Regions from separate parts of the Homo sapiens genome. Here all the other regions are reported to be linked to region 3. The links are microRNA targets in miRTarBase. Many come from high-throughput screens and were not tested one by one. Region 3 holds a microRNA gene; each other region holds the end of a gene's coding sequence.

The links. The annotated mature microRNA hsa-miR-6722-3p reads UGCAGGGGUCGGGUGGGCCAGG and lies in region 3 at 2,072-2,093, opposite strand. An mRNA with a match to its seed (bases 2 to 7 or 8) in the 3' UTR can be bound and repressed. Matches are read on the target gene's strand: a 7mer-m8 pairs with bases 2 to 8, a 7mer-A1 pairs with bases 2 to 7 and ends in A, and an 8mer does both.
Region 1: the mRNA of SARS1 is a reported target of hsa-miR-6722-3p. Seed matches in the 3' UTR shown: 7mer-m8 at 3,695-3,701.
Region 2: the mRNA of LAMA5 is a reported target of hsa-miR-6722-3p. Seed matches in the 3' UTR shown: 8mer at 3,506-3,513.

The regions. Positions count from the first base shown.
Region 1 is chr1:109,237,683-109,241,682 of GRCh38, reverse strand. SARS1 (seryl-tRNA synthetase 1) reads right to left here. Exons shown (of 11, transcript NM_006513.4): 11 at 3,501-3,952. The coding sequence ends at 3,795. Among named protein-coding and RNA genes, the nearest start is that of CELSR2, 9.9 kb to the left of the region's middle. RefSeq lists silencers at 542-836, 1,944-2,358 and enhancers at 847-1,542, 3,483-4,000.
Region 2 is chr20:62,305,794-62,309,793 of GRCh38, forward strand. It overlaps LAMA5 (laminin subunit alpha 5), which reads right to left. Exons shown (of 80, transcript NM_005560.6): 79 at 3,923-4,000; 80 at 3,272-3,682. The coding sequence ends at 3,543. It overlaps ADRM1 (ADRM1 26S proteasome ubiquitin receptor), which reads left to right. Exons shown (of 10, transcript NM_007002.4): 4 at 404-527; 5 at 855-941; 6 at 1,578-1,659; 7 at 1,803-2,035; 8 at 2,228-2,385; 9 at 2,575-2,677; 10 at 2,862-3,069. The coding sequence ends at 2,968. Among named protein-coding and RNA genes, the nearest start is that of ADRM1, 4.8 kb to the left of the region's middle. RefSeq lists an enhancer at 1-496.
Region 3 is chr9:136,744,832-136,749,130 of GRCh38, forward strand. MIR6722 (microRNA 6722) reads right to left here and starts at 2,139; the gene lies at 2,062-2,139. It overlaps LCN6 (lipocalin 6), which reads right to left and starts at 3,694. Exons shown (of 7, transcript NM_198946.3): 1 at 3,563-3,694; 2 at 2,593-2,732; 3 at 1,013-1,083; 4 at 339-449. The coding sequence starts at 3,652. LOC100128593 (a long non-coding RNA gene) reads left to right here and starts at 1,330. Exons shown (of 3, transcript NR_033913.1): 1 at 1,330-1,370; 2 at 2,247-3,741; 3 at 3,915-4,299.

The sequences.
Region 1 (4,000 bases), not on the chromosome of region 3:
AGGTCACACCGTCTTATCAGCAATTTACACCCCAATGAAAATAAACTCCCAGACCATTTTGACAGCAGGTTTGTGTAGGGGGAAGGGAACCAAGTCCCATGGAGGGACAGGGACCAATCTCCAAAATGCAGGGCTTGTGAACCAGCCAGTCAGAGCAGCAGAAGAGGACCCGCCCCTCCGTAACAAGAGGTTCTCTCGGAGGTGGCTGGGACACCCTACCTCCGCCGGAAGGTCCCAGAGAGGTAAAGACCTGGAGTTCAGGGCTTCTTTCCTGGCAGATGGATGGGGAGCTGCACATTGCTGGGTTTCTGCAACATGAACCTGCCTGCAGCACCCCCACCCCACCCCCATGGGGAGGGCTTTTTTAATTTTTATTTTTTTGAGACAGAGTCTCACTCTGTCACCCAGGCTGGAGTGCAGTGGCACAATCTCGGCTCACTGCAACCTATGCCTCCTGGGTTCAAGCGATCCTCCTGCCTCAGCCTCCTGAGTAGCTGGGATTACAGGTGCGCACCACCATGCTCGCCTAATTTTTGGTATTTTTAGTAGAATCAGAGTTTCACCATGTTAACCAGGCTGGTCTCGAACTCCTGACCTCAGGCGATCCGCCCTCCTAGGCCTCCCAAAGCGCTGGGATTACAGGTTGGCCCCGCCGGAGAGGGCTCTTAAAAGGGCAATGTCAGAGGCCGAGGCATCAGCCCCACCAGGACCTGGCCAAGTCCAGGCTGCAAGGAAGCACTCCCCTTTTGTACCTGGGAAGAGCTGCTGGGGAACCCCATGTTGGGAGGTAACTGGGAGAGCGGGGCAGGCCCCTCATCCCGGCACAGGCTCCGACACGCAGTACATTTGTCTGGCGCCCATCCCAGCTCTGCCTGTCAGACTCATCCTGGGAGTGCAGCCAGGGCCGCCCCCGCCGCGTACCCCCTGGGGAAGGATGGGGACTCGGGGAGAGGAGGCATTCTCAGGACCTGGGGTAAACCGGAAAAGCTTCAGGGGAGGAAAAGCAGGACAGACGGCTAGGAGAATGTTGGTTCCCAGGAGTGAGGTTTCAGTGTTTGGCTAATGAGCTGCCCTGCCCAGCCTGGACTGTGAGCGCAGGCAGGTCCCTCGGCCTTACGTTGGGTCCCCAGTTACCAGCCTCTTTAGAGTTTCTAGAAGTCTGGCTTATGGTTGTCTCTCTTGGTGGAGAGGCCAGACTGTTGGTCCCAGTGTTTCCTCACTCCCTGCCTAAAGCACCCAGACCTGCATCTTGGGCCCTGAATACCTGGGTGTGGGAACCCAGGGTTGGTGAGGGACCCAGGGCTCTGACTCACTCCACTAGGCCTCTGGAGGGTGTTTGCTAACTGAGGTAACCTGGGTAGCTGAGGTTGGAGATGGGGCAGGTCAAGGTGCCAGAGATGAGGGCATCAGGCGTGGGATGCGGAGGCAACTACCAGGGTGGAGTCAAGGCTATTGGGCCTGTTCCCAACTGCTCGGCTTCCAGGTGGGTCGGCCCCTCCTAAATGAAGCTTGCATCAGCCCCATCCCACTGCCTCAGGGAGGGAGAGTGTCTGGTTTTCCCTCTCTGAAGGAAGGCGAACCACACCTTTCCCAACAGTTATTTGTGAGCAGGAACTGTGTTACCTTCTTTCTGTAAACCCTGCTCCTAATGGTGCCTGGCACAAGGTAAGCACTCGGTGACCGTGTGTGCCCTCCTGCTGTTGTGCTCTTGGGTATGACCTGTGGGGAGGGACCTCAGCCACAGTCATCCTTGCCTTCACTACCATTGACTTCCTCTCCTCTGGCTTCTGGAAGCATGGGGTCCCTTATAGTTACTTTCTGCTAACAAGCCAGTTTGTCCATACAGCCATCTTCCTAGCCAGGCTCCTACACCAGTCCCTACACGGGCAGGAGGAAGGCTGGCAGGGAAAGCTGGGCTGCCCAAGGCAGGAGGGTCTCTCTGCACAAAGCAGCTGAGAGTCCAGGCAGCCAGCTCCAGCAGGTAAGTCAGCTGGGTCCTCAGGGACTCAAAGCCCCAGCTTCTGCCCTCCCACAGAGCTCTCAGGGCCATGGCAAAAAGCAGAGCCTCCTACTGGTAGGAAGGTGACAGGCACCAGGAGCCTAAGCAGGTAGGCGTGGGGAGTGGTGCAGGCAGCTGTAGGGACTTCTAAGACAGAGCTAAGGCAGAGCAGGGGCGTTCAGGGCCCTGTGAGAGTTCCCAGTGGGCTTCTGGAATGGTATAGGGGGTGGGGCAAAACTAGCCTCCTGCACACTGTGTACGCTGCCTTTCTTCAAACCAAATAGTTGAGGCCACAGGAAATGTGAGTTTCTGGTCCTTCTGAATTACAAATGGGAGCAGCTTGCTCTTTGTCCCCTTGTCCCGGCTTTGTTATCCCAGAGCTGGGGCAATGGGCTACGGCCCAGGCGGGTCTGCCTGTGGGCCCCCAGCTGGCATAGCCAGGCAAGACAAGAGAGCCACTGTCACCCCTTCACGCACCTACCTCAGTTTTGACAGGGTTTCCAGCAGCAAGATTAATAGGATCAATCTCAAGCCCCCAGTGGAAAATGGAGCACATGGCCCCTTTCCTTGGTACTATGCTCCAGCAGGCCCAAGTCGCTGCTCAGGGACTAAGGAAGCTGAGGTGAGATAAAGGCTCCTAAGTGACAGCCCAGTTCACATTCCAGCTCTCAACCTCCCAAAGAAACATAAAGCACTGCCGAGGAGTCAGGACTTCCGACCTCCATCAGGCCACGTTGTCTCATCTCCCTTACCGTCCTTGTATTTCTGTCTTCCAAAGGATGGAATAAGCATAATCATATAATCATGTCCCCACCCTACCTTCTGGGACCATCACAAAGATAAAAGAGATCATCTATAGGGAGTATTTTAACCTCCTAGGAGAGAGGCACTAAACTAACAGAAGCTGTTATTAAAGTAAAGGGTTTGTAGATTGCAGATGAAAGGCAGCAGGTAAATAAACAGCCTGAACATCAGCCTCCCCTGAGAAAGGAACTGGCTATTAGGGCAACAGTGGGAGCTCCACAAAGGGGCTACAACATTTTCTCCTCTCCTCTGCCCTGCTGGCTATCCCAATCCTTTGGAGGTGCAGCAGCAAGTTGGTATGCAGTTGGTCTCCCCATGTGGGGATGGCTGTAACGAGAGAAACTGCTGTTAATAAGTCCCCAACCCATGCTAGGCATAGAAGCTAGGGGCTCTTCTGGATTAAATACAGCCTCTCGCTTTCCACAGAGTCCTTTGTAGGGAACAGAAGTGCTAAGAGGCTTTTAAAACAGTTCTGGTCTCTAAGCTAGTCCTACCTCAATGATTTCAAGCAGGAATATATTTGTAAAGGAGGATCCTGGCCCTTGCCCTGCAAGCTTTTGTGATTCAGACTCCATCTTCCACCTTCCCCTTGAGCTTTTTCTAAGTGTACCCCTCCCTTCGCTTACCTGTTCAAAGGCTCTGTGACTTGCTAACTGGAGGGAGCAGCCTAATTTGGAAGGAAAAGCAGAAGTGTATATCAGGGAGAACCTCAGAGGCGGGGTTCAAGCCCGGGGAAGAAGACTGAGGAAGAGTCCTAAGCCCTCCCCAGAGATGCTTTATTACATGGTTTCATCAGTCATCAATGATGGGTCCCTATGCCCATGCGAGGAGACAGGAACATCTGTGTGGTACATGGCACTGTTCCCCTCTCAGCTACGCAGTCAGATGGGGGCAGGGGGATGAATGGGTGCTTGGCTTCCCTGCTGTTGGGCAGGCTCTGAGATCTCAGCAGACAGAAATGAAAGCCTGGCAAATAGGGAGGCAGGAATGTTCAAGCATCGGTGACCTCCATGTTCTGCAGCCTGTTTTCTAGGGTGACGTCTCTTGCTGCTGCTTTCTTTTTGCTGCCCTCATGTTGCTTCTTCTGCTTCTTTGATGGCTCCTGCTCAATGGGCGCAGGCTTCACAAAGGGGATCAGTTCTTGCAGTCCTGGGAGGGAAGAGCCAACCAAATGACCTGTTGTTTCTCAGTGAGTCA
Region 2 (4,000 bases), not on the chromosome of region 3:
GGTGTGCTGAGCGGGCCAGTTCGCTGCCTTCCACTGGTTGAAGGAAGGAGACGGGTGTGTAAAGAACCGCACCCCAGAGGGCAGGAGGGTGAGAGGGCTTGGTCTGGCAGCAGCTAAGTGCCTTCGGAGCTCTAGGCTCCCCATTTGTGAAATGGGCGGAGGGGGACAGGGCACACCCGGGATTGCGGCGGATGGGGACAGGGCGCAGAGCATCGTGCTCAGGAGGCGCCACTGCCGTCCCCTCACCTGCTGGGCCGGGTCCTGTCTCCTCAGCATTGTGTGGCCAGGCACACGCGCCTCTGCGTCTCAGGTCCCTCACCTGGAAGCCAGGTCAGAGGATGGCTGTGGTGGCCCTGGGTGAGCTGGCGCCAGCTCCTGCCCTTACATGCCCTTCCTCTTGCAGGAACCCAAGACAGACCAGGATGAGGAGCATTGCCGGAAAGTCAACGAGTATCTGAACAACCCCCCGATGCCTGGGGCGCTGGGGGCCAGCGGAAGCAGCGGCCACGAACTCTCTGCGCTAGGCGGTAACTGTCACATGTGTCACGTGAGCTCAGGGTTTCCTGGGAGGCCAGAGTCTACTGTGGATGACTCGCCCCCTCAGCACAGGTTGTTTGGAAGTGGAAATAGAAGATTCTAAAAGTTAGAGACCCTGTGAGCTCCCTGGGTCACTCCCCACTCCCACCTTCACGGGGTAGGACGGGTCTGCATCCCACCGTCGCCTCACTTCAAGTGGTGCCCCCTGTAGGGTTCAGGGGCAGCCGAGTGCGGTGCTCAGCAGAGGCGCAGGCAGTGCGGTGGGGCCCGCGTGGATCTGGCTGGGGCAGGCCCGCCTGAGCTGCAGTGTTTTCCAGGTGAGGGTGGCCTGCAGAGCCTGCTGGGAAACATGAGCCACAGCCAGCTCATGCAGCTCATCGGACCAGCCGGCCTTGGAGGACTGGGTAACGTGCGCCACCCGGGCTCTCGGGCAGCTTCTGCTGGGAATGCTTTGAGGCCCGGTCTCTGTTTCCTTTAAACTTCTGCTGGCTCTGTCTGCGTAGTGTCGGGGAGCCTGTGTGTCCGCAAGCTGGTTCCCCTTTGGGAATGCGCTTGTTTGCCTGTGGCTAGAGCTGGGTAGGCGAGGGCTTCTGGGCCCCTGGTGAGGACCCCAGCTGGGTACTTCAGAGGAGGGTGGCTGGCCGAGCGGTGGGGCTGGAGGACTGGAGGGAGCTGGGGTTCCTGCGCCCTGGGTCCCCTGGCCCTACATGGCTGCCTGCCTGCTGCCAGCTCATGGAGTGCAGACCCGTGTGCTTGGCCCTTCAGAAATGCTTGTCCCTTTGGGTGGGATCTGGACTGAATCTTCTAATCTAAGCACATGAATTGTGTAATGGGATGGAACAGAAATGACCTTGCTTCCAGAACACAGCCGCAAGTGTCCACCCGCCCCACGCCGCTCCTCCAGGCCTGTGGGTCCCCACCGCCCCGCTTCTTCCTGGCTTTGGTGTTGGGAATTCCTGCTCCTCTGGCCTGGGGAGGGGCCAGGCTCTTTCTGGTGGGCTAGAGGGCATCCTGAGCTCGCATTTCCTTGCCCCTCGCAGGTGGGCTGGGGGCCCTGACTGGACCTGGCCTGGCCAGCTTACTGGGGAGCAGTGGGCCTCCAGGGAGCAGCTCCTCCTCCAGGTGAGCCTCATCGCTCCTGCCACGCAGGTGCCACGGTGTTAAGGGAGGGGCAGTGGGGAATCCTGGCCCAGCACCCTGGACCCTGCGAGTAGGCCCTGCCGTGTGGGGCGTGTCCGCTCCAGCGGTGCCCTCTCTCTTCGCAGCTCCCGGAGCCAGTCGGCAGCGGTCACCCCGTCATCCACCACCTCTTCCACCCGTGCCACCCCAGCCCCTTCTGCTCCAGCAGCTGCCTCAGCAACTAGCCCGAGCCCCGCGCCCAGTTCCGGGAATGGAGCCAGCACAGCAGCCAGCCCGACCCAGCCCATCCAGCTGAGCGACCTCCAGAGCATCCTGGCCACGATGAACGTACCAGCCGGGCCAGCAGGCGGCCAGCAAGGTAACGTGTGCTGTCGCCTGGAGCTGGGTGGGGGGCATGGGGCCTGCTGACCCTCGCACGCTCACCTTCCAAGGCATCTGCCTAGTGTGCGCGCCTGGGGTGCTGGGGCCATGGGCTGAGTCCCTGCTTGCATGCCTTCCATGTGGGCACTTAGGCTGTCATCGAGCTGATGGCCGTGTTCTTGTGCCCCAGTGGACCTGGCCAGTGTGCTGACGCCGGAGATAATGGCTCCCATCCTCGCCAACGCGGATGTCCAGGAGCGCCTGCTTCCCTACTTGCCATCTGGGGAGTCGCTGCCGCAGACCGCGGATGAGATCCAGAATACCCTGACCTCGCCCCAGTTCCAGCAGGTAGAGGCCGGGCCCAGGGTGTCCTCCACTGTGTGCTCAGGGAGTGGGCAGGGGGGAGGAGGAGGCCCTGCCCCACCTTCACCATGGCCAGTGCTTCATGTGCCTGACCCGCAGAGCTGGCAGCTGAGCAGTGTGGCTCTGGGGTGCAGCCCGGGTTGGAGCTCAGCCCTCGCCTGGCTCTTCTTGCAGGCCCTGGGCATGTTCAGCGCAGCCTTGGCCTCGGGGCAGCTGGGCCCCCTCATGTGCCAGTTCGGTCTGCCTGCAGAGGCTGTGGAGGCCGCCAACAAGGGCGGTAAGTGGCTGCGCCTGCACCTCCAGGCCAGAGCCAGGGGCAGGGTCCATTCCTGTCCCCCTGGATCTGCAGAAGTGGGGCTGAGGGGGTAAAGGTCACAGCCCTTCTGCCCTTGATCCCATCGCTTTGATCCCCAGTTCTGGGCAAGGGTTAGACACCACCTTGTGTCTTTAACGTGTTCTAGATGTGGAAGCGTTTGCCAAAGCCATGCAGAACAACGCCAAGCCCGAGCAGAAAGAGGGCGACACGAAGGACAAGAAGGACGAAGAGGAGGACATGAGCCTGGACTGAGCCACGCGCCGTCCTCCGAGGAACTGGGCGCTTGCAGTGCGTTGCACACCCTCACCTCCCACCCACTGATTATTAATAAAGTCTTTTCTTTTACCTGCCAATGCTTAGTTTCTTTGCCCAAAGGGAGTTTCGGCTGGACAGGTGCTAGCGTGGGGAGCTGCTGTAGGGTCCCAGAGACAGTTAGTTATTTGACCTAACAACGGAAAACGGTCACCCCAGGAAGAGTTTGGTGCCTCTGTCCAGGCCGGTTCCAGATCTGTCTTGAGACTCACTCTCTCCGTATTTAAGTCAACATTCATTCGGTTACACAGAAGTTACTTTTTAATTTTTAAGGAGGAACCAGTGATGATTGGTGACAAATCTCTCACAATTAAAAATGGGTGGAAGGGCCAAATATAAAAACATTTTGCAGTATTTTATTCTTTCGTTTAAGAAGCTATAACTTAAACCATCTTCAGAAACAAGATCTGTCACCCGTAGAGCTTAGAGTCCAAATAGACACCTATGAGGCGAGCACAAGGGGCGGTGTGAGGCAGCTGCAGGGGCCTGACCAGGGGCCGGGGTTGGCTGTGTCCTAGGCGGCTGGGCAGCCACTGGCCCCCACTGCCCCGTGGACCTCCACAGAGCGAGTCATGGCGACGGGGGACCGGTTCACCGCCAGCCTCCTCATGCAGCCGCAGTAGGCGGGGGGCCAGGGCTGCACGGCCATGGGCTCTGGGGGCACAGGGAAGATGGAAGAAGGCTGGTTGGTGGGCAGCTAGAGACCCACAGGCCCTTCCCAAACGTCAGTGCCCCACCCAGCCCCTGTCTCATTCCACATCATAGGAGGGTGGTAGGGGGGTGGGAGGAGGGTGGGAGGGGGCAGGGGGTGGAGGGGTGGGGGGAGGGTGGTAGGTTACGCAGCACCTAGTCCTGAGGGGCAGCTCCCCCACCCTTGATCAAGGCCGCACTCACCAGGCAGGCCCCCGAGGTACAGAGGGGCTGGGGCACCAGCTGCAGCCGCCAGCAAGGGGCCCACGGTGTGGTTGCTCT
Region 3 (4,299 bases):
CCTGCCCTGGGATGCTGGCCCCGGTCCTTCCAAAGCCACCTCCAGTGCAGCGAGCCTCAAGGTGGGGGAACTTGGCCTGCATGTGGTCCTGTGCGGCCCACCCACCACACAGCTCCCCACATGGCCCCCGAGCGGCCCACTCACCACACAGCTCCCCATGTGGCCCCAAGCGGCCCACTCACCACACAGCTCCCCACATGGCCCCCGAGCGGCCCACTCACCACACAGCTCCCCACGCGGCCCCCAAGCGGCCCACGCACCACACAGCTCCCAACGTGGGCCCCGAGTGGCCCACGCACCACACAGCTCCCTACGTGGGCCCCGCACAGCACACTTACTGTACAGCTCCACGGTGTTGAAGGGCTCGTCCCCGAACTCCAGCTGAGTGAAGATGATGGCATAGTCTCTGAAGTTGGTGGCCAGCACCCAGAGCTCCAGCACGCCTATTGCTAGGAAACAAAACCCCCCGCCTCAGGGGAGGGCAGCTGCTGTATCCATCCAGGGGCCGCTGAGCTGATGCTGGCCACAGGGACAGAGGGGCCAATTCAAGTGAGAGCCCCCCTCCCCAGGAGACCCCTCCAAGCACACCCAGAGCCCCCAAGCTTTGTCCCCCACCCCCGACCCCACCTGGTGCCAGCATCAAGGGGCTTTCAGACACTGACGGACAGACAGACAAGCACTGCCCCAGCCTGTCCCAGGTGTGAACGAGGAGCGGCTGGGTCACACCAGCCCAGCCCTGTACCTGTAGACAGCCACTAAACAGGCCCCTCGCCCTCTGCACCTATGGGGACCTTGGCTGGACCTCACTGGTGTCTGAGCCTGCTGGGAACAAGGTTCCAATCCTCTGTCCAGGGGCTTCTCTTCACCCTCAGGATGGGCAGCAATCCCAAGACCAGAACCTGTAGCCTCCTGGCTCTCGGGAGCGGAGTCAGCCCTCCGTCCCTGCCCGCAGGGGGCCTGGGGATGCTGCAGGGAAGAACGGCCTGGGTGAGGCCGTGGCCGTCAGACTCACAGGGATTCTCAAACACCCATCCGGAGTTTCGCTTTATCAGGTCCATGACACTCTGGTCACACCCTCCCAGCCTGGAAAAGAAGGGGCCTGTCACCCACTCAGGGTCAAGACCCCGGGGCCCGGTGAGAGGAGACGGAGCTCAGGAGTCCAGGCCAGGCCAGCCAGCAGTGAGGCCAGAGCTTCCATCTTCTGCCAGATGCCCCGATGCCCGGAAACCTGTTCTCGGAGAGTGGACGGCGTGGGAGTCCTGAGAGGGGCGGACACTCCCATTCACTTCCTGAGAGATCCTCAGTGCCAGATCTCCACCAGGAACGCTGAATGCTGCTGAGGACACAACAGGAGACTCGACAGACGGGAGGTTCGCCCGCGACTCGGGGGAAAGATGGGGTGGGGTGGGGGTTCGCCCGTGACTCAGGGGAAGGATGGGGCGGGGTGGGGGTTCGCCCGCAACTCAGGGGAAGGATGGGGCGGGGTGGGGGTTCGCCCGTGACTCAGGGGAAGGATGGGGTGGGGTGGGGGTTCGCCTGCGACTCAGGGGAAGGATGGGGCGGGGTGGGGGTTTGCCTGCGACTCGGGGGAAGGGGCCGGCGCTCCCTAAGTGGTCAGTCCCCAGAGTGAGCAAAACCCAGCAAAGGTGCAATGGTGTTTGCCAAGGAAGGAAACTGAGGCTGAGTCCATGCGGGAGGAACAGCAAGAAGAACTAGGAAAGCCACGTGGGAGCTGCCACCTCAGCCTGGAGCCCCTTGGTCCCAGCTCGCCCTGAGGCCAGGCCTGGCCCGGGGGGTGCAGTGGGGCCCCTGCCCATACCCTGCAGGCGCAGGTGCAGGGGGAAGGCACGCTGGTGAGGAGGGCAGGTTCTTCTCTCTGGGCCCCGTACCTGGCTCAGTGGTTCAGGCCTGGGCTCTGTCGCCAGCCTGCCAGGGGGTAGACACCCACCACGCCACCCAGCAGGCCACTCTTCTGTGAAGGGAGGCGGGCACCGACTCCTGCCCCAGCACGGCTACCCCCACAGCCCGGCTGCCCTGTAGGTGTCCCCTGTGTAGCACGGCCGCCCCACAGCCTGGCCCACCCGACCCCTGCACGCCGCCACCAGCCATGCATGTGGTCGGGTGCGCCTGCCTGAGGCCACAAGGCCAGTCTGGCCAACAGCGTCCATGACCATATTGTTTGGGGATTTATGTTATGAAAGAACCAGTGGTTCTTAGGTCCGAATGCATTATCCTCCTTTAAACAGAATTCCCGAAAAAGGCCTGCTGAGAGGACAGGCTTCCCCAGCTCTGACCACAGCCTGCAGCCCAGATGACCCAGGACAGGGATGCATGAAGGAGCATAGTCAGAGCAGTGCCCGCCGCGGTATTGAAGGTGGGAGTGCCACCTGGAGGCCCCAGGGACACAGATGTGAGTAGCTGGGCAGAGGGCTGGTGGCTCTGCACAGAGCCCAGTGGGAAAAGTGACGGGGGTGCAGAGGGGCCGTGGGAAGCCCCCAGGCCGCGGTGCCCGGGAGCAGATGTGCAAAGTACATGATGTGGCTGAGCCACAGTCCTGCCTGCGGGAAGGCCTGGCAGGACCCGCCCACTCACCCGTGCTGAGAGGACAGCGTCCGCAGGTTGTTTTCTGGAGTGAGGGTCACCACCACCCCCACGACGTTCTTCATGTCCTTCTCCATGGCAAAGCCCTTTTCCCGGGAGGCCACCGCAAGCACGTACCAGGGCCCAAGAAGCTGCATTGAGGCGGCTCCCGTTAGGGCCGCCAGCCCTCCAGCCTCCAGCCTCCAGCCTCCAACCCTCCAGCCTCAGCCTCCAGCCTCCAAACCTCCAGCCTCAGCCTCCACCCTCCAACCATCCAGCCCTCCAGCCTCCAGCCTCCAACCCTCCAGCCTCCAGCCTTCCAGCCCTGCAGCCTCCAGCCTCCACCCTCCAACCATCCAGCCCTCCAGCCTCCAGTCTCCAACCCTCCCGCCCTCCAGCCTCCAACCTTCCAGCCTTGCAGCCTCTAGCCTTCAGTTCTCCAGCCCTCCAGCCTCCAGCTTCCAACCCCCCAGACCTCCAACCCTCCAGCCTCCAGCCTTCCAGCCCTACAGCCTCTAGGCTCCAGCCCTCCAGCCTTCCAACCTCCAGCCTGCAGCCCTGCAGCCTCTAGTCTCCAGCTCTCCAGCCCTCCAGCCTCCAGTTCTGCAGCCCTCCAGCCTCCAGCCCTCCAGCCTCCAGTTCTACAGCCCTCCAGCCTCCAGCCCAGCAGCCTCCAGCCTCCAGTTCTCCAGCCCTACAGCCTCCAGCCCTCCAGCCTCCAGTTCTCCAACCCTACACCCTCCAGCCCTGCAACCTCCAGTCTCCAGCCTCCAATTCTCCAGCCCTCCAGCCTCCAACCCTCCAGCATCCACCCCTCCTGCCCTGAGGCTCCTGCCTGTGGGACTCCCCAAGGGCTGGCCCAACTAATTCCCCACTGCTCATGCTGGTCTGGGCTAGCCCTGGGGGGCCCAGAAGCTGTGTGGCCTTAAAGGAGGGGCTGGCCCCCGAGGACCAGCTCTCCCCACCCCCAGGAGGACTGTACCTGCTCAGGGTCCAGTCTTCCCAACCACACGGCCTGGGCCCTGGGCACCGAGACCAAAGCCAGAAAAGCAGCCAGCAGCAGGCCGCCCATCCTCCCAGGTCTACACTGCGCCGCAGGCCCAGGATGTGCAGTCCCTCCAGGCCCTGGAGACCCGTTTATATGGCTCTGAATTTCTCCGTGTGGGTGGCACTAACTGCCAGGAACCCTCCTGGCCTCCTGCAAAATTACCCAGGGGAGCACTGAGCAGTGGCAGCCTCTGAGCCCAGATCAGACCAGCTGCACAGCCAGGAGAGGGTCTGGAGTGTGTGGATCAACCATACTATACTGATCCCCTGCTTTCTTCCACCAGAAGGTTCCAGAATGGGCATCCTAAAGCCAGCCGCACCACCTCCCCCGTTCCTGGGGACCCACGCTCTCCCTCGCCCAGCCTGGGAAGCAGGGAGACTGCTGTCCGCTGCCAGGCCCGGCAGGAGGCCAAGGTCAAGCCCAAGGAGAGGAACCAGGGCGAGAACAAGTGGTTCTCAGGAACTGCGGTTTTGGATATCTTTTGTTTCAATCATTAAATATAAAAAGTCCCTGAAAGCCTTTTGAAAAAGGCTCCCACCTCCTCCTGGCCCACCCACCATTCTGCTTTGTGGCCTGGCCTCTGTCCCCCACAGCCAGCACCCCCAGAACAGACTGTCCTGTTCCTTCCACCTCTGCAGCCCACCATCCGGCCCTGCTGCCTCCTGCCTCCC